2 separate regions of the Homo sapiens genome follow, and region 2 is linked to region 1. The links come from fine-mapping of genetic effects on plasma protein levels. A gene starts in region 1. The other region holds a variant in brackets. All regions are shown on one strand. Distances are from middle to middle. Region 1 holds the start of RTBDN (retbindin). Region 2 holds the start of RTBDN-AS1 (RTBDN antisense RNA 1).

Evidence for each region. A credible set is the group of variants that fine-mapping cannot tell apart. PIP is the posterior inclusion probability: the model's chance that the variant is causal. Protein levels are from antibody-based Olink assays in UK Biobank. Linkage for the fine-mapping came from a reference panel and not from the study's own genotypes, which makes the PIPs less certain.
Region 2: its variant is the best candidate, but not a certain one, in a credible set for the plasma level of the RTBDN protein (UK Biobank, PIP 0.62).

The regions. Positions count from the first base shown.
Region 1 is chr19:12,833,201-12,838,499 of GRCh38, reverse strand. RTBDN (retbindin) reads left to right here and starts at 3,921. Exons shown (of 6, transcript NM_001270441.2): 1 at 3,921-4,011. RefSeq lists silencers at 5-184, 189-372 and enhancers at 3,434-3,963, 5,159-5,299.
Region 2 is chr19:12,817,195-12,829,108 of GRCh38, reverse strand. RTBDN (retbindin) reads left to right here. Exons shown (of 6, transcript NM_001270441.2): 3 at 156-240; 4 at 342-452; 5 at 2,238-2,334; 6 at 3,176-3,627. The coding sequence ends at 3,403. RTBDN-AS1 (RTBDN antisense RNA 1) reads right to left here and starts at 3,376. Exons shown (of 3, transcript NR_187779.1): 1 at 3,197-3,376; 2 at 2,217-2,324. RefSeq lists a silencer at 425-584, an enhancer at 2,833-3,609 and a cis regulatory region at 3,178-3,978. The variant C/T (reference allele first, on the strand shown) is at 7,654.

The DNA of each region.
Region 1 (5,299 bases):
AAGCGCGCGGGGCGGAGGCTGCAGCCGCCGCAGCGGGCAGGGGAGGGCAGGGAAGGGGAGGGCCCTGCGGCTGCAGCCGGCCGGGAGGGGGCGCTGCTGCGTGCCGGCGAGCCAGGCCCCGCCCGCGCACTCGCCTGGCGCCCCCACCCCGGCGGGAGAAGGGGCGGCCAGCCCCCGCCACGTCTCTCCCCAGGCTCACCTGCTGCTTTTCCGGGGCAGGGGCAAATCCTTCTGGAAGGCAAAGGGGCAAAACGATGAAGGTCAGCGTGGACCTGCCGTTGCTGCCCACAAGCATTATCAACTCCCTGGAGGAGCAGAAGCAGGGTAAGACAGGCCCCTCTTCAGCACTGTCACTTTCACCCTTGGCCATGCACTGCGGGCCAAGTTTCTTGGGGGAGAGGATCCCTGGGTGATTCCTCTCCTGACCCTCAGAGACCAACAGAGGCCCACGTACACAGGCGGGGCGCCATATAAAGGCAAGTGAGTTGGCATATCAGCGTGTGTTTGTGCAAATGAAATAGGAATCATTATTTGAAAAATATGTCTTGAGCACCTACTGTATGCTGACCCAATCCTAGGCACTAGGGACACAGTAGTGAATAAATTACAAGTCCGGTGTGGTGGTGTGCACCTCTAGTCCCAGCTACTTGGGAGGTTGAGGCAGGAGAATCGCTTGAGTCCAAGGAAACACCAGCGTGGGCAACACAGCAAGACTCTCTGTCTCAAGGAGAAAAAAAAAAAAGTTTCTGGCCTTTTGGGACTAGTATTTATAGGGTAAAGGGGACATTAAACAAGATTAGTGTAGAAGTGAACGAAATCATTTTAGACAATAATTAGTCTTATGAATAAATTAAACAGGGTGATGTGATGGACAATGGCTAGGATGGAGACACATTGTCAGACAGGGCTGCTCTGTGGAGGTGACTTTTAAGCTGGTTGCTGAAAGATAAGAGCCAGCCATGGGAGGATCTGTGGAGAGAGCATTCCAGGTGGAGGGAACTGCAAGGGCAAAGGCCTGGAGGCGGGAATAAGCTTAGCGTACTCAATGAATGAATGAAAGGTTGAATGAATGAAAGGTTGAAAGAATGAATGACTCATCTACACCTCAGCAGATCTATCTGACTCCCAGCTAGAGTCATAGAGTTGGGGTAGGGGGTGGGGGGTAGGTAAGTAGAGTGACTCACAACTGAGATTTAAAATGGGAACCACGGAGGCTGAGGTGGGAGAATCTCTTGAGCTCAGGAGGTCGAGGTTATAGTGAACTATGATTGCACCACTGCTGGAGTAAGACACCCTCTCAATTAACAATAAATAAATAAATAATAAAAAGTTTAAAAAATAAAAAAATAAAAATGGAAATTCAGGTGATGGCCGCATAGTCATTTTTTATAATGACAATAATAATAATTAGTGAGTATTAACTTTATGTGTCTGCATTTGAAGAAGGTCACCTTCCATTTGTCAAGCTCTTAGGAAGTCACTGTAGGGATCAGGAGATATGGGGTCTTGGCTTTTTTCTGAGGAAAGGAATGGGGTACAAGGGGCAACACCTGCCAGCCAGTTTTCTATCCACAGGGTGAGGTGGAAGGAAGGAAACTGAGTGGGGCTGCAGGTGGAAAGATTTGGGGGAGAGTTTCAAAAGGCCTTTGGAGGGGACTCCAACAAAAGGAAAATGAGGGATGTCCTAGACATTTCTAGGATCTCTAAAAGCAAAAAGCCTAGGTTCAAATCTCAATTCTGCTTTTTATGACCTTGGCAAATGACCTTCCAATAGTCCCGTGTCTCCTTGAGGATCTTAGGAGTTGATGCAGATGCCTAGCCCCTTAGCATGGTGCCTAGCACATAGCAAGTGCTCAATAAATACTAAGTCTGGAGAACAGGCGTTATTAAGGAGGGACATGCTGCATGACAGAGGATGGGCCACAGCGTCCTCCCACCCCGTTGTACAACGGACAAACATATAGGCGGGGCCAAAGGGCAGCCCTGCCCTCCCGAGCCACGGGTGACCGATAATCCAAACCAGGTTTTCCCTCTGTCTTTGCATGACCGGAGTGAATGAGGACCAGTCGACCTGGCTGCGTGTCTGCAATGGCCCAAGCGAAATCAAGACCTGGATTTTCTGGCCACAGAGCCCAGGGTGTCCAGATCCGGGTAACCGGCCTTGGAGGGTAAGCCCCTGGAGGGCTTTTAAGCACCACCCGAAGAAGACCTGGAACCCAGCCCCACCCGCTAGCGCCCCCAAACATTCTAGGGACGAAGAAAGGGTCAAACTGGAGCGGCGGAAGTTCGGGTCTTTGGCGTCAGTGTAAACAGACGCCACCTCCAATCTCAGCTGCAGAGCCGCTCGGCCAAGTGGATTCCGCTTCTCCCGCACAGGATTAATAGTTGACACTGCAGACAGGGCATTCGAACTCAGGATGCTGTCTACATATAAGATCCCAGGGCGTGGTGGCTCACGCCTGTAATTCCAGCGCTTTGGGAGGCCGAGGCGGGTGGATCACCTGAGGTCAGAAGTTCAAGACCAGGCTGGCCAACATGGTGAAACCCACTCTCTACTAAAAATACAAAACTAGCCGGGCATGTTGGCATGAGCCTGTAATCCCAGCTACTAGCGAGGCTGAGGCAGAAGAATCTCTTAAACCCGGGAGGCGGAGGTTGCAGTGAGCCGAGATTGCGTCACTGCACTCCAGCCTGGGCAACAGAGCGAGACTCCGTTTCAAAAAAAAAAAAAAAAAAAAGAGCCTAGCTGCACACAGGGGACCCTCGGGCGCTCAGCAGTGATGCGACAGTTCCTAAGAGGATGCACCAACGTATGTGGGTGTATCCAGGCAGCGAAGTGGTTAATCCCGCCAGAAGGGAAGCGGTGGGGACAGGACTCCGACAGGGATCGCCGGACCCAGAGCAAGCCTGGGGTTGAGTGGGTGGGTGGGTGAGTGGAAGCATTCCGCGTTGGGGGCGGTGTCTCGAGCGGGAGTTTAAAGTCCCGCGTGGCGCTGAGCCAATGAGAGTTGACGCCGGCCTGGAGGGCGGGGACACACCGTGCAGGCCCCGCCTCTTTCCTCCCTTTTCTCAGAAACCCGACGGCGCGGACCCAACCTGGCTGCTGCAGTACTTGCTCTAACTTTGCCGCAGCTGCCTCCCTTCTCTCGGAACCCACTCTCCTAACCCACCCCCGAGAGGCGGAGAGAATGTGGGAGCACTTCAGAGAGGCCTAGGCTCCGGAGATCGGGCCATCTGGGCTCTGAAAGCAAATTAGTTTTCCAACTCATGTCTGGCTCCGGCGTTACCCAGACGCCTGGAAGGTCCTTCCTGCAGTCTGATCACCATTTTTCCTGCTGCACTGACCAATCAGCTCCCCTTGGCCTTCAACCTCGGGAATGATGGATTAGGGGAGTCTAGAAATGGACGAAGCCCTAGGTGAGGGTTTGAATCCTCTTTTCCCAAGATTCAGGCTGGGGATGGAGCCTGAGTCTGGGCCCATTCTCGGCTTTATCTAAACTCCAGATTACCAAGCCTGGGGCTGAGCCCCAAGGAGGCTCAGAAGGGCCAGACCCCAGGCAGGGCCTTGGGGCACAGATATCATCACCTTCCCCTCTGGGATGTTTGGGACCGGACCTCCGTATTAACCCTGAACTTCCGTACTAACCCCTCAGAAACGCAGCTGAAGACGAGCAGAGGACGCTTCTCGGCTACAGAATCCCTCCCCACCTTGGAGGTAGGAGCTCCTGACACCTGAGTTTGTCCCCGCCTTCCCCACACTCCACAGCGATCCTCAGTGTCCCACTCCGTGCAGTGGACGCACGGCTCCTGCGCCTGCGCAGCCTCGAGACCAGCATCTTCTAAGGCTGCAAGGAGCTAAAAATCGCTCCCGCCCACCCACAAGCTGGGCTGGACTTGAGGATCGCGGTGGGGGGGCGGATGTTGTAGTGGAGGAGGTGGAATGAAGAGTGAGAAAGCTGTCTAGGTGCCTGTCCAATTAGGGCAGTAGGAAGAATCCTGATGGCCAGGCAGGTGCGTGGGGGACGCAGGGCGTCCTATGCCTCGGGAGGGGGCTCCTGGGGTGGTGAGGGGCGAGGTTGCCGCACAAACATGTTTACGCCTCCAGCGGCGCCGATGGCCCCGAGGGGCATGAGCCCTAGGGCAATAACTTTGCTCTGCGCCCCCTCACCCCTAGCCTGGCGAGGCGCCAGGGCGATGACTTCGGCCCCAGCCCCATCCCCCTAGGGCGGGCCAGGCGCCCCTCAGGCGATCCTCGAGGGGGAGCGCTAGGCTGCACCCCTCCGGCAGCTCCCTGGATCGCCGGGCGGCGCCTGAGGGGCGGGGTCCCCAGCGCGGCGGGACGCGCGGCCACAGCGTTCCCCGCGGTTAGCGTCCCGAACCTATGGGTGGGGGCGTCCCGGCTGACCCTAGTGCAAGTTCTCCCGCCTCCTGCCCAGCCCCGCCCCAGGGCGCCGACCCCTTCCTCTCCACCCGGGGCCCAGGCAGCCGCGTACCTGCAGCCTCCGGCGGCGGATGAGGCCCGAATCGTCCATGGCGGCAGCGGCGGCGACTTCGGCCCGGGGAGGGAGGAGGGAGGTAGCGGCGGCGGGAGGAGGGAGGAGGGAGGGAGTGAGAAGCCGCGGGGACCGCGGCGGCGGCGGCGGCGGCGGCTGAGGGGAGGGGTGGCGGGGGCGGGGGCGGAGCGAAGTGGGGCGGGCCCGGCGCCGTCACTGCGTCTGGGCGCCCGAGCCCGGGCTCAGCCACCGCTGCCCGCGCTGGCGGGGGGAAGGGGCGGGCGGGGGGGCGGAGCCTCCTGGTGCCCCCATGGGAGCCAAGCTGCCGAGAGACCACTATAAAAAGAGACACCCCAGAGGAGAGATATTCTCAGGGGTAGAACCCTCAGTCAAGAAACACCCCAAAGGAAGCCTTCTCCCTGAGATACATTCCCTCTACATTCATCCCCCAGAGACCCCCTTGGTGAGACACATTCCCAGGGGGAGATAGTTTCCACAGGGACGCCCTGTCCAATCAAGAACTCCCCCAACCCTGAAAATCATTCCTAATAGATATGGTCCCTGAGAGGTGACTTTCCTCTCAAAAGCCATCCCCCTCCCCACGAAAGAGGCATTCCCCGAAGAGAAAGATCCCAGGAGTAACAATTCCCGTGTAAAGGATACCCCCAATCAGAGACCCCTAAAAGCCATATCCTCTGTGGGAAACTGTCCCCACCCACGAGACCTCTACAGCCCCAGGAGAGATCTCATGCTTACAGAGAAACATTTTCACTGAGGAGACCCGTCTTCACAGGAGACGCAACCTC
Region 2 (11,914 bases), 13 kb after region 1:
AGCTGCATTTGCATTCCAAAGGAAGGGTCTTAAGTTATGGGTTTGTGAGGATTGATGTAATTGTTGTCTCCCCTGTCCAGGGGATCCCCAGGCCTCAGTTCCCAAACCTTACCTGAATATCCAAGACCCTAGCTCACAGGGTTCCCCTTTGCCAGGACCTTGTTGTCCCTCAGAGATGGACACAACAGAGACATCGGGCCCTGGAAACCATCCAGAACGCTGTGGAGTGCCGAGCCCTGAGTGAGTACAGCACCCTCCACCGTTTTCTCGCGTACTTTGCCCATTGCCCAGGAACTCCCTCGGGTCCTGACCCATCCGACCCTATCTCTCCCAACGTCCAGATGCGAATCCTTCCTGGAACACCTCCAACGTGCCCTTCGCAGTCGCTTCCGCCTGCGGCTATTGGGGGTACGCCAGGCACAGCCGCTCTGCGAGGAGCTCTGCCAGGCCTGGTAGGAGACGCGGGGGCAAGGGGCGTGGGTTGTGACTTGGGCGGGGAAGAGGGCGGAGCCTGCAGTTTGCTTGGCCTTCTGTGTAAAGGGGAGTGGCCTCCAACAGGGCCAAGGTTTAAGAGATGCAGCTTAATGTTTAGAGCCCAGGTAGATAGGGGCGAGGCATGAGAAGCCCCCAGCTTTTAAGATACCTGCCATATGGCAATGTGGCTTTTCATAGCCCTGCGATTTCTTTTCTTTTCTTTCTTTCTTTTTTTTTTTGAGATGGAGTCTCACTGTGTCACCTAGGCTGGAGTGCAGTGGTGCAATCTCGGCTCACTGCAACCTCCACTTCCCGGGTTCAAGCGATTCTCCTGCCTCACCCTCCTGAGTAGCTGTGGTTACAGGCGCACACCACCATGCCCGGCTAATTTTTGTATTTTTAGTAGAGACGAGGTTTCACTATGTTGGTCAGGCTGGTCTCAGACTCCTGACCTCGTGATCCGCCCGCCTCGGCCTCCCAAAGTGCTGGGATTACAGGCGTGAGCCACCGTGCCCGGCCTTTTTTTCTTTTTTTTTTTTTTGAGATGGAGTTTTGCTCTTGTCGCCCAGGCTGGAGTGCAGTGACACGATCTCAGCTCACTGCAACCTCAGCCTCCTGGGTTCAAGTGATTCTCCCGCCTCAGCATCCCTAGTAGCTGAGATTACATGCTTCCGCCACCACGCCCGGCTAAATTTTGTATTTTTAGTAGAGACGGTGTTTCACCGTGTTGGCCAAGCTGGTCTCAAACTCCTGACCTAGGTGGTCCGCCTGCCTTGGCCTCTCGAAGTGCTGGGATTACAGGGGTGAGCCACCATGCCCAGCCAGGCCCTGAGATTTCTTAAGGAGTGAGTCCTCTTGATTGAAAAGATAAGGTAAAAGGGTGGGTGCCTGTAATCTCAGTCGTTTGAGAGGTCAAGGCAGGAGGATTGGTTGAGGCCAGGAGTTCAAGATCAGCCTGGGGAACATGGCAAGACCCAGTCTCAACAAAAAATTTAAAAATTAATTAGACATGGGCCGGACGTAGTGGCTCATGCTTGTAATCCCAGCACTTTGGGAGGCCAAGGTGGGCAGATCCCCTGAGGTCAGGAGTTTGAGACAAGCTTGGCCAACGTGGTGAAACACCGTCTCTACTAAAAACACAAAAATGAGCCAGGCGTGGTGGTGGGCGCCTGTAATCCCAGCTACTCGGGAGGCTGAGGCAGGAGAATTGTTTGAACCTGGGAGGCAGAGGTTGCAGGAAGCAGAGATTGGGCCACTGCACTCCAGCCTGGGTAACAGAGCAGGACTCCATCTCAAAAAAAAAAAAAAAAAAAATTAATCGGACATGATGGTGCGCACCTATAGTCCCAGGTACTTGAGACACTGAGGTGGAAGGATTGCTCCAGCTTGGGAGGTCAAAGCTGCCATAAGCCATGCTTACGCCACTGCACTCCAGCTTGAGTCACAGAGCAAGACCCTGACTCAAAAATAAATAAAAGGAAAACGAAAGAGTGGGAAAATATGAGGGACTGGCCTGTAACTAATGGTCTGAGGTCTGTAGGGACAAGGCCAGTTGTGACGTGGCCCAGAGTATGGAAAGATCTGATAGAATATGGGGCAGGGTGAAATCTGGAGAGATGGGGTTAGTTAGCAGGGGAGTGGTTCTAAAAGGCGGGGCCTGGATCCGAGGTGGGGGCATATAGTGAACACAGTCTAGAAGAGCCAGAATCGCGCTGGAATGTAACTACAAAGGCTTTACCCACCTCTCCACTCGCCATCTCCAGGTTCGCCAACTGCGAAGATGATATCACCTGCGGCCCGACTTGGCTCCCACTCTCAGAAAAAAGGGGCTGTGAGCCCAGCTGCCTTACCTATGGACAGGTGAGCGTGGGGCAGAAGGTGAAGGGAAGAGACTGAGATCCTCCCCACCAAGTTATTTATTTATTTATTTATTTATTTCTGAGACGGAGTTTCATTCTTGTCACCCAGGCTGGAGTGCAGTGGCGCGATCTCAGCTCGATGCAACCTCCGCCTCCGGGGTTCAAGTGATTCTCCTGCCGCAACCTCCCGAATAGCTGGGATTTCAGGCGCATGCCACCATGCCCAGCTAATTTTTGTATTTTTAGTAGAGTCAGCGTTTCACCATGTTGGCCAGGCTGGTTTCGAACTCCTGACCTCAGGTGATCCGCCCACCTCGGCCTCCCAAAGTGTTGGGATTACAGGTGTGAGCCACCGCCCCCGGCCCCCACCAAGTTCTTTCTTACCGTGTCTAGACCCCAGAGACCGGATTGGTACTCCCCAGGTCCCTGCTCCCACCCTTCCCTAGCCCAACCTCCTACTGGGTTGTGCCCTTTGACCCCAAAAGCTCTCGAAGTCCAGATTTGCCCTTCCCAAGAAACCATTCCTGCTCTGGGTCCATCCACATTTTACCCTGGAGGACCCAGAAGCCCAGTCACTCTCTACAAAACCCCAGCCTTGATACAGACCTCTCTGCGCGCCCCCCAACTGCCCCAACCCTGATTCATCCCGCTAGGGCCCAGTAAGAACATTCACCCTCCCCAAGGACCTGCCCCCACTCACGTTCCGCACATAGACTCCCAGGCCGCACGCTCCGGCTCTGACCCCAATCCCTAAGGAATTTACACATTTTTCCCTTCCCGAGGCCACGCCCCCCACGTCTCTGGACTCCGCCCACTAGGGCCTTAACTCCACTTTTTCCTAGACCTTCGCAGACGGGACGGACCTTTGTCGCTCGGCTCTGGGCCACGCCCTACCGGTGGCTGCTCCTGGAGCCCGTCACTGCTTCAACATCTCCATCTCCGCGGTACCTCGTCCCAGACCAGGACGACGGGGCCGGGAAGCTCCCTCCCGGCGTTCCCGCAGCCCTCGCACCTCCATCCTGGACGCTGCGGGCAGCGGGAGTGGCAGTGGAAGCGGCAGCGGCCCCTAGCGGACGCGTGGCCCTGAGTTGGGGGAGCGACCCTTCCCCCAGCCCCGCCCCTCAGGACACCCAGAACCCCACCCCTCGTCCTCTCGGCCTTCTGTAATAGTTTTGAGATGTCTGTCCCTCCTCCCTGGAGCTCCAGAGACCCACCCCTCTCCAGGTTATCCCAGAAATGACCCAACTCTCTCACTTTTCCCTCTCCCCTTTGAATAAAGTCGCCAGCTAGAGCACGTGACGAGTGTGGCTGCTTCTTGGGGAAATAAGTCGGAAGGAGAATTGCCAGAAAGTAACGGATGTCTCACGTCTAATCCTCAGACCCTAGAAGTAGTGACTGACTCATACTAGAGTGTAAATGATAGATAGCCTGTGCCCTAGAGCAGTCAACATAACTGGGAATACCCAGTTGTTGGAAATGGAGAGGGGGTCAGAACAGGGGCTGACAAGGGCAGGAGGGGTTCCTTCCCACTGTGTGCCACCAGGGCTGCCAAGAAGCTGCCTAACTTGTATAGGCCTCAAGACACACTTCAAGGCCAGGTGCAGAGGCTCATGCCTGTAATCCCAGCAATTTGAGAGGCTGAGGTGGTTGGATTGCTTGAGCCCAGGAGTTCAAGACCAGGCTTCGCAATACGGTGAGAACCTGTCTCCACAAAAAAAAAAAGAGAGAGAGAGAAAGGAAGAAAAAAGAAAAAGAAAAAGAATATTTTTAATTGGCCCAGTGTAGTGACCCGTGCCTGTATTCCTACCTGCTCAGCAGGCTGAGGCAGGAGGATCGCTTGAGCTCAGTTCAGGGCTGCAGTGAGCCACGATCACACCACTGTACTCTAGTCTGGGTGACACAGTGAGAGCCTCTCTCTCAAAAAAAATAATAATAATAAGACATGCAGACACAGAATACCAAGCTGGCCCTGGTAGTATGTGCTGTACTCCCAACTACTTGAGAGGCTGAGGTAAGAAGATCACTCGATCCCAGAACATTGAGGCTACAGTAAGCTATAATCCTGCCACTACACTCCAGCCTGGGCAAAAGCCAGATCCCAGCTTTTTATTTATTTATTTATTTTGAGACTGAGTTTCGTTCTTGTTGCCCAGGTTGGAGTGCAATAGCAGGATCTCAGCTCACTGCAACCTCCTCCTCCCGGGTTCCAGTGATTCTCCTGCCTCAGCCTCCCTAGTAGCTGGGATTACAGGCACCTGCCACCAAGCCCAGCTAATTTTTTGTATTTTTAGTAGAGATAGGGTTTCACCATGTTGGCCAGGCTGGTCTCAAACTCTTCACTTCAGGGGATCCACCCACCTTGGCCTCCCAAAGTACTAAGATTACATGTGTGAGCCACCACGCCTGGCGTTTTTTTTGTTTGTTTGTTTGTTTTTTTGAGACAGAGTCTAGCTTTGTCTCCCAGGCTGAATTGTAGTGGTGCAATCTTGGCTTACTGCAACCTCAGCCTCCTGGGTTCAAGTGCTTCTCGTGCCTCAGCCTCCAGAGTAGCTGGGATTGCAGGCACACACCACCACATCTGGATAATTTTTGTATTTTTAGTAGAGATGGGGTTTCACCATGTTGGCGAAACCTCAGGTGATCCACCTGCCTCGGCCTCCCAAAGTGCTGGGATTACAGACACAAGTCACCATTCCTGCCCAAGACCCCATATTATACATGTACAGACTACAGAATTTGGTGGGAATGACCCCGTGTAGCGTCCACCTGTGTTCACAACCCAGCTCTACCACTTACTTATGCTGTAACTTCGGTTTCACACGTTGCCCAGATTGAGCCTCAGTTTCTTCATCTTTAAAATGGGAATGTGGGCCAGGCACGGTGTCTCATGCCTGTAATCCCAGCACTTTGGGAGGCCGAGGCAGGTGGTTCATTCACTTGAGGCCAGGAGTTCGAGACCAGCCTGGCCAACATGGCGAAACTCCGTCTCTACCAAAAGTACAAAAATTAGCCAGGCAGCCGGGTGCGATGGCTCATGCCTGTAATCCCAGCACTTTGGGAGGCCAAGGCGGGCAGATCACGAGATCAAGAGTTCAAGACCAGCATGACCAACATGGAGAAACCCCATCTCTACTAAAAAATACAAAAATTAGCCAGGCATGGTGGGGCGCACCTGTAATCCCAGCTACTCAGGAGGCTGAGGCAGAAGAATCGCTTGAACCTGGGAGGTGGAGGTTGCAGTGAGCAGAGAACGTGCCATTGCATTCCAGCCTGGGTGACAGAGCAAGGATCTGTCTCAAAAAAAAAAAAAAAAAAATTAGCCAGCTGTGGTGGCACATGCCTATAATCCCAGTTTCTTGGGAGGCTGCGGTAGGATAATCACTCGAACCCAGGAGGTGGAGGTTGTGGTGACCTGAGACAGTACCACTGCACTCCAGCCTGGGTAACAGGGTGAGACCTTGTCTCAAAAAGAAAAATTACAATAAAATAAATAAAATAAAACGGAAATGCATTCCTTTCACAGGATTGAGAAAGGAGAATTCAGTGAGTTAGTGCAAGTTTTTCTGCTTATCTAACACTGCATACCAAACAATTCCAATATAGTGATGAAAAAAAGGTCACTAGGCTGGGCGTGGTGGCTCATGCCTGTAAGCCCAGCACTTTGGGAGTCCAAGGCGGGCGGATCGCAAGGCCAGGATATCGAGACCATCCTGGCTGACATGGTGAAACCCCGTCTCTACTAAAAATACAAAAAATTAGTCGGGCATTGTGGCAGGCACCCGTAGTCCCAGCTACTTGGGAGGCTGAGGCAGGAGAATGGCATGAACCTGGGAGGCAGAGGTTTTAGTCAGCTGAGATCACACTACTGCACTCCAGCCTGGGCGACAAAGCAAGACTCCATCTCAGAAAAAAAAGTCATTATCGGCTGAGTGCAGTGGCTCATGCCTGTAAGCCCAGCACGTTGGGAGGCCGAGGCGGGCAGATCACCTGAGGTCAGGGGTTCAAGACCAGCCTGGCCAACATGGTGAAACCCTGTCTCTACTAAAAATAAAAAATTAGCTGGGCATGGTGGTGCGTGCCTGTAATCCCAGCTACTCAGGAGGCTGAGGCTGGAGAATCACTTGAACCCATAAGGCAGAGGTTGCAGTGAGCCGAGATCATGCCACTGCGCCCCAACCTGGGTAACAGAGCCAGACTCCGTCTCAAAAAACAAAACAAAAAAAAAGAAACAACAACCAGCACTTTAGGAGGCCGAGGCAGGTGGATCACGAGGTCAGGAGTTCGAGACCAGCCTAACCAACATGGTGAAACTCCATCTATACTAAAAATACAGAAAATTAGCCGGGTGTGGTGGCGCATGCCTGTAATCCCAGCTACTCAGGAGGCTGAGGCAGGATAATTGCTTGAACCCAGGAAGCAGAGGTTTCAGTGAGCCGAGATCACGCCATTACACTCCAGCCTGGGTGACAGAGCGAGACTCCATCTCAAAAAAAAAAAAAAAAGTTACTATCTTTCATGGTTCTGGGGTTTGACTTGGTTCAGCTTGGCAGTTCTTCCTGAAGATCTGTCATATACTTGCAGACACAGTGGCTGGGGCTGGAATCACGTTGAAGGCTTCCTTGCTCACATATCTGGTAGTTGGTGTTGGCTGTTGCCTTGAACTTCTGCTGGGGCTGTTGGCCAGAATATCTGCACATGGCCTCTCTGTGGCTTGGGCTTCCTCTCAACATGGCAGCTACGGTCTAAGGGAAATATCCCAAGAGAGCAAGCCAGGTGGGATCTGTTTCAGTTCTGATGACTTAACCTTGGAACTCACACAGTGTGACATCTCTCACTTTTTATTCACTACAGTGAGTCACTGAAGCCAGCTCATATTCAAGGAGAGGCATCATAGACTCCACCTCCAATGGGGGGGATGTCAAATAAAATGCTTAGAAAGTGTGGCACACAATTATCACTCAATGAATGTAGACCGTCTATTATGATTGCTTCTGGTGGATGATGTTACATACTGGGTTACTGATGTTATAGACTGTGTTATTGTGACAAGGAGGAGGAACAAGCATTCAAGGAAGTAAAGCAAGTCTTTAAAGGATCTCCAGTCAGATAATCAAGCCATGGAGGACATTCCAAGTGAAAGGCCTGGAGATTTCATATTCTGGGAACTCTGAGCTGACCAGGAAGCCTGGGATAGACCATGGGAGATGGGATCTGGTCCTGGAAGACACTGGATGCCAGGCAGAGACACTTGAACCTGAGGATAGAGTGTGATGTACCAGGAGCTGTGGCTCACACCTGTAATTCTAGCACTTTAGGAGGC[C/T]GAGGCAGATGAATTCTTTGAGGTCAGGAGTTCCAGACCAGCCTGGGCAACAGGGCAAAACCCCATCTCTACTAAAAATTAAAAAAATTAGCTGGGCATGGTGGCACACACCTGTAGTCCCAGCTACTTGGGAGGCTGAAGGTGGGAGGATTACTTGAGCCAGGAGGTGGAGGTTGCAGTGAGCCATCATCTGCCCTCCAGCTGAGGCAACAGATGGAGACCGTGTCTCAGAAAAAAAAAAAAAAGAGAGAGACAGGAGGGTGTGATGCAAGGTTTGGCAGTTCGGGCTACAGTCTCAGCTACTTGGGAGGCTGAGGTGACTGTATTGCTTGAGGCCAGGAGATTGGGAATAGCATGGGCACCATAGCCAGACCTCATCTCCAAAATAAAAAAAAAAAAAAAAGTTAGGCTGGACAAAATTAGGTAGGACAGCTCACGCCTGAAATCCCAGCACTTTGGAAGGCTGAAGCAGGAGAACTGCTTGAAGCCAGGAGTTCAAAATCAGCCTGGGCAACATAGTAAGACCTCATCTCTACCAAAAAAAACAAAAACCAAAAAAAATTAGCGAGGTGCAATGGTTTGTGCCTGTAGTCCCACATACTCAGGACCTCATTTAGAAAAGGAAACATGTGAAAGCCATAGGTTTTTTGTTTTTGTTTTTTGAGACGGAGTCTCGCTCTTGTCACCCAGGCTGGAGTGCAGTGTGGCACGATCTCGGCTTACTGCAACCTCTGCCTCCCAGGTTCAAGCTATTCTCCTGCCTCAGCCTCCTTACTAGCTGGGATTACAGGTGCCTGCCACTATGCCTGACTAATTTTTGTACTTTTAGTAGAGACGGGGTTTCACCATGTTGGCCAGGCTGGTCTTGAATTCCTGACCTCAGGTGATCCACCTGCCTTGGCCTACCAAAGTGCTGGAATAACAGTCATGAGCCACCGTGCCCAGCCTTGTTTTTGTTTTTTTAAAACAGGGTCTCACTCTGTTGTTCAGGCTCTTAAGTGCAGTGGTGCAATCTCGGCTCACTGCAGCCTCAACCTCCCAGGCTCAAGTGATCCTCCCACCTTACCTCCCCAAGTATCTGGGACTACAGGCGCTCACCACCACGCCCAGCTGATTTTTGTATTTTTTAGTAGAGACAGCGGTTTCACTATGTTGGCCAGGCTGGTCTTTAACTCCTGACCTCGTGATCCGCCACCTTAGCCTCCCAAAGTGCTGGGATTATAGGCATGAGCCACTGTGCCTGGCTGAGACCCTTTTTTTTTTTTTTTTTTTTTGAGATGGAGTCTTGCTCTTTAGCCCAGGCTGGAGTGCAGTGGCGCTATTCTCGGCTCACTGCAAGCTCCGCCTCCCAGGTTCACGCCATTCTCCTGCCTCAGTCTCCCGAGTAGCTGGGACTACAGGTGCCCGCCACCACACTGGCTAATTTTTTGTGTTTTTAGTAGAGATGGGGTTTCACCATGTTAGCCAGGATGGTCTCAATCTCCTGACCTCGTGATCCGCCCACCTTAGCCTCCCAAAGTGCTGGGATTACAGGTGTGAGCCACCCGGCCTTTTTTTTTTTTTTTTTTTTTTTTTGAGACGAAGTCTCACTCTTGTCCCCCAGGCTGGAGTGCAAAGGCGCAATCTCGGCTCACTACAACCTCCACCTCCCGGGTTCAGGCAATTCTCCTGCCTCAACCCCTGGAGTAGCTGGGATTACAGGTGCCTGCCACCAGGCCTGGCTAATTTTTGTATTTTTAGTAGAGATGGGGTTTTACCATGTTGGCCAGGCTGGTCTAGAACTCCTGGCCTCAGGTGATCCACCCGCCTTGGCCTCCCAAAGTGCTGGGATTACAGGCGTGAGCCACCGCACCCAGCCAACTCTGTTTCTTAAAAAAAACCTCAAAAACATGACACTCGGGATCTTCAGCAGGCCAGTGTGGAACCCTGGACTCTTTCCAACTCCCGTGTGAGCTTCACGCTGCTGGGACGGGGACCCAGCACTGAGTTCTCACAAATTCAAAGGCTGTTGTTAGAAGTAACATTTGCAGGCCGGGCGCGGTGGCTCATGCCTGTAATCCCAGCACTTTGGGAGGCTGAGGCGGGTGGATAACCTGAGGTCAGGAGTTCAAGACCAGCCTGGCCAACTTGGTGAAACTTCGTCTGTACTAAAAATACAAAAATTAGCAGGGTGTGGTGGTAGGTTCCTATAATCCCAGCTACTCGGGAGCTGAGGCAGGAGAATTGCTTGAACCCAGGAGGCAGAGGATGCAGTGAGCTGAGATCGCACCACTGCACTCCAGCCTGGGTGACAGAGTGAGGCTCTATTCCAGAAAAAAAAAAAAAAGAAGTAACATTTGCAGGCTGCACATGGTGGCTGGTGGCTTTTACTTATAATCCTAGCACTTGGGGAGGCCAAGGCAGGAGACCCCTTGAGCTCAGGACTTCAAGACCCACCCCCTGGTGTCTACAAAAAGTCAAAGAAGGCGGGGCACAGTGGCTCACGCCTGTAATCCCAGCATTTTGGGAGGCCAAGGCGGGCAGATCACGACGTCAGGAGATTGAGACCATCCTGGCTAACATGGGGAAACCCCTTCTTTATTAAAAATACAAAAAATTAGCCAGGCATGGTGGCATGTGACTGTAGTCCCAGCTACTTGGGAGGCTGAGGCAGAAGAATTTCTTGAACCCGGGAGGCGGAGGTTGCAGTGAGCCAAGATCACACCACTGTACTGCAGCCTGGGAGACAAAGCAAGATTCCATCTCAAAAAAAAAGAGAAAAACAAAATTAGCTGGGCGGGGTGGTCGGTGCCTGTAATCCCAGCTACTCAGGAGTCTAAGGCAGGAGAATCGCTTGAACCAGGGAGCCAATGGTTGCAGTGAGCCGAGATTGGGCCATTGCACTCTAGCCTGGGCGATAGAGCAAGACTCAGTCTCAAAAAAAAAAAAAAAAAAAAGAAATACAAAATGAGCCGGATGTGCTCACTTGAACCCATGTGGCGGAGGTTGCAGTGAGCCGAGATGCCACTGCAACACAGCCGGAGCAAGAGTGAGTCTCCATCTCAAAAGAAAAAGAAAAATAAGCTTTTAAGTCAAATAACAAAATAATAACAACAAGACGAGGGTTGGATAGAGGGTGTCTCTTGGGTGGAGACCACACCTCCTCCCGAATGCCTACTCTCACTGCCCTCTTCTTGGGCCCTTTTTTTTTTTTTTTTTTTGAGACGGAGTCTTGCTCTGTCACCAGGCTGGAGTGCAGTGGCATGATCTTGGCTCACTGAAACCTTCGCCTCCCATGTTTAAGTGATTCTCCTGCCTCAGCCTCCAGAGTAGCTGGGACTACAGGCACCCACCACCACACCCAGCTAATTTTTGTATTTTTGGTAGAGATGAGGTTTCACCATGTTGGCCAGGATAGTCTCCATCTCTTGACCTCGTGATCTGCCCACCTCGGCCTCCCAAAGCGCTGGGATTACAGGCGTGAGCCACGGCGCCTGGCCTCTCGGGCCTTCTTGAAGCCAGGTCTCCCATTTCTAGGCCTCAACACGTGCCCAATGCCTGGAACCCCCTCCATCCTCCAGTCACTTATTCCACCGCATTCACCCCGCAGACCTCTGCCAGTCAGTTCCTCAGGCTCTGAGACCCCCAGATCAGAGCTGGGTCCCCCATCATGCATTCCTGGGCACTCTAGCCTCCACTGTCAAAGGACAGTTCTGGGATTCTGGCTGGCTGGTGCAGTGCTGGCTTCTGCGTCCTACAAAGAATTTGCGTGGAGTGGAGAAATGCTCTGTTATGGGTTGAATGGGTCTCCTCCAATTCATATGTTCAAGTCCTAACCCCCAGCATGTCAAAACGTGACTGTGTTTGGAAAGAGCGTGTTTAAAGGGGTAATTAAAGTAAAATGAGGTCATATTTGTGAGCTCTAATTCAATGACAATAAGAAATTAGGACACTTGGCCGGGCACTGTGTCTCATGCCTGTAATCTCAACAATTTAACACTTTGGGAGGCTATGGTGGGAGGATCCTTTGGGCCCGGAGTTTGAGAGCAAACTGGGCAACATAGCAAGACCCCCATCTCTATAAAAAAAATTTTTTTTCTTTGAGACGGAGTCTCACTCTGTTGCCCAGGTTGGAGCGCAATGGCACGATCTTGGCTCACTGCAACCTCCACCTCCCAGGTTCAAGCATTTCTGCCTCAGCCTCCTGAGTAGCTGGGATTACAGGCATCTGCCACCATGTCCAGCTAATTTTTGTATTTTTAGTAGAGACGGGGTTTTGCCA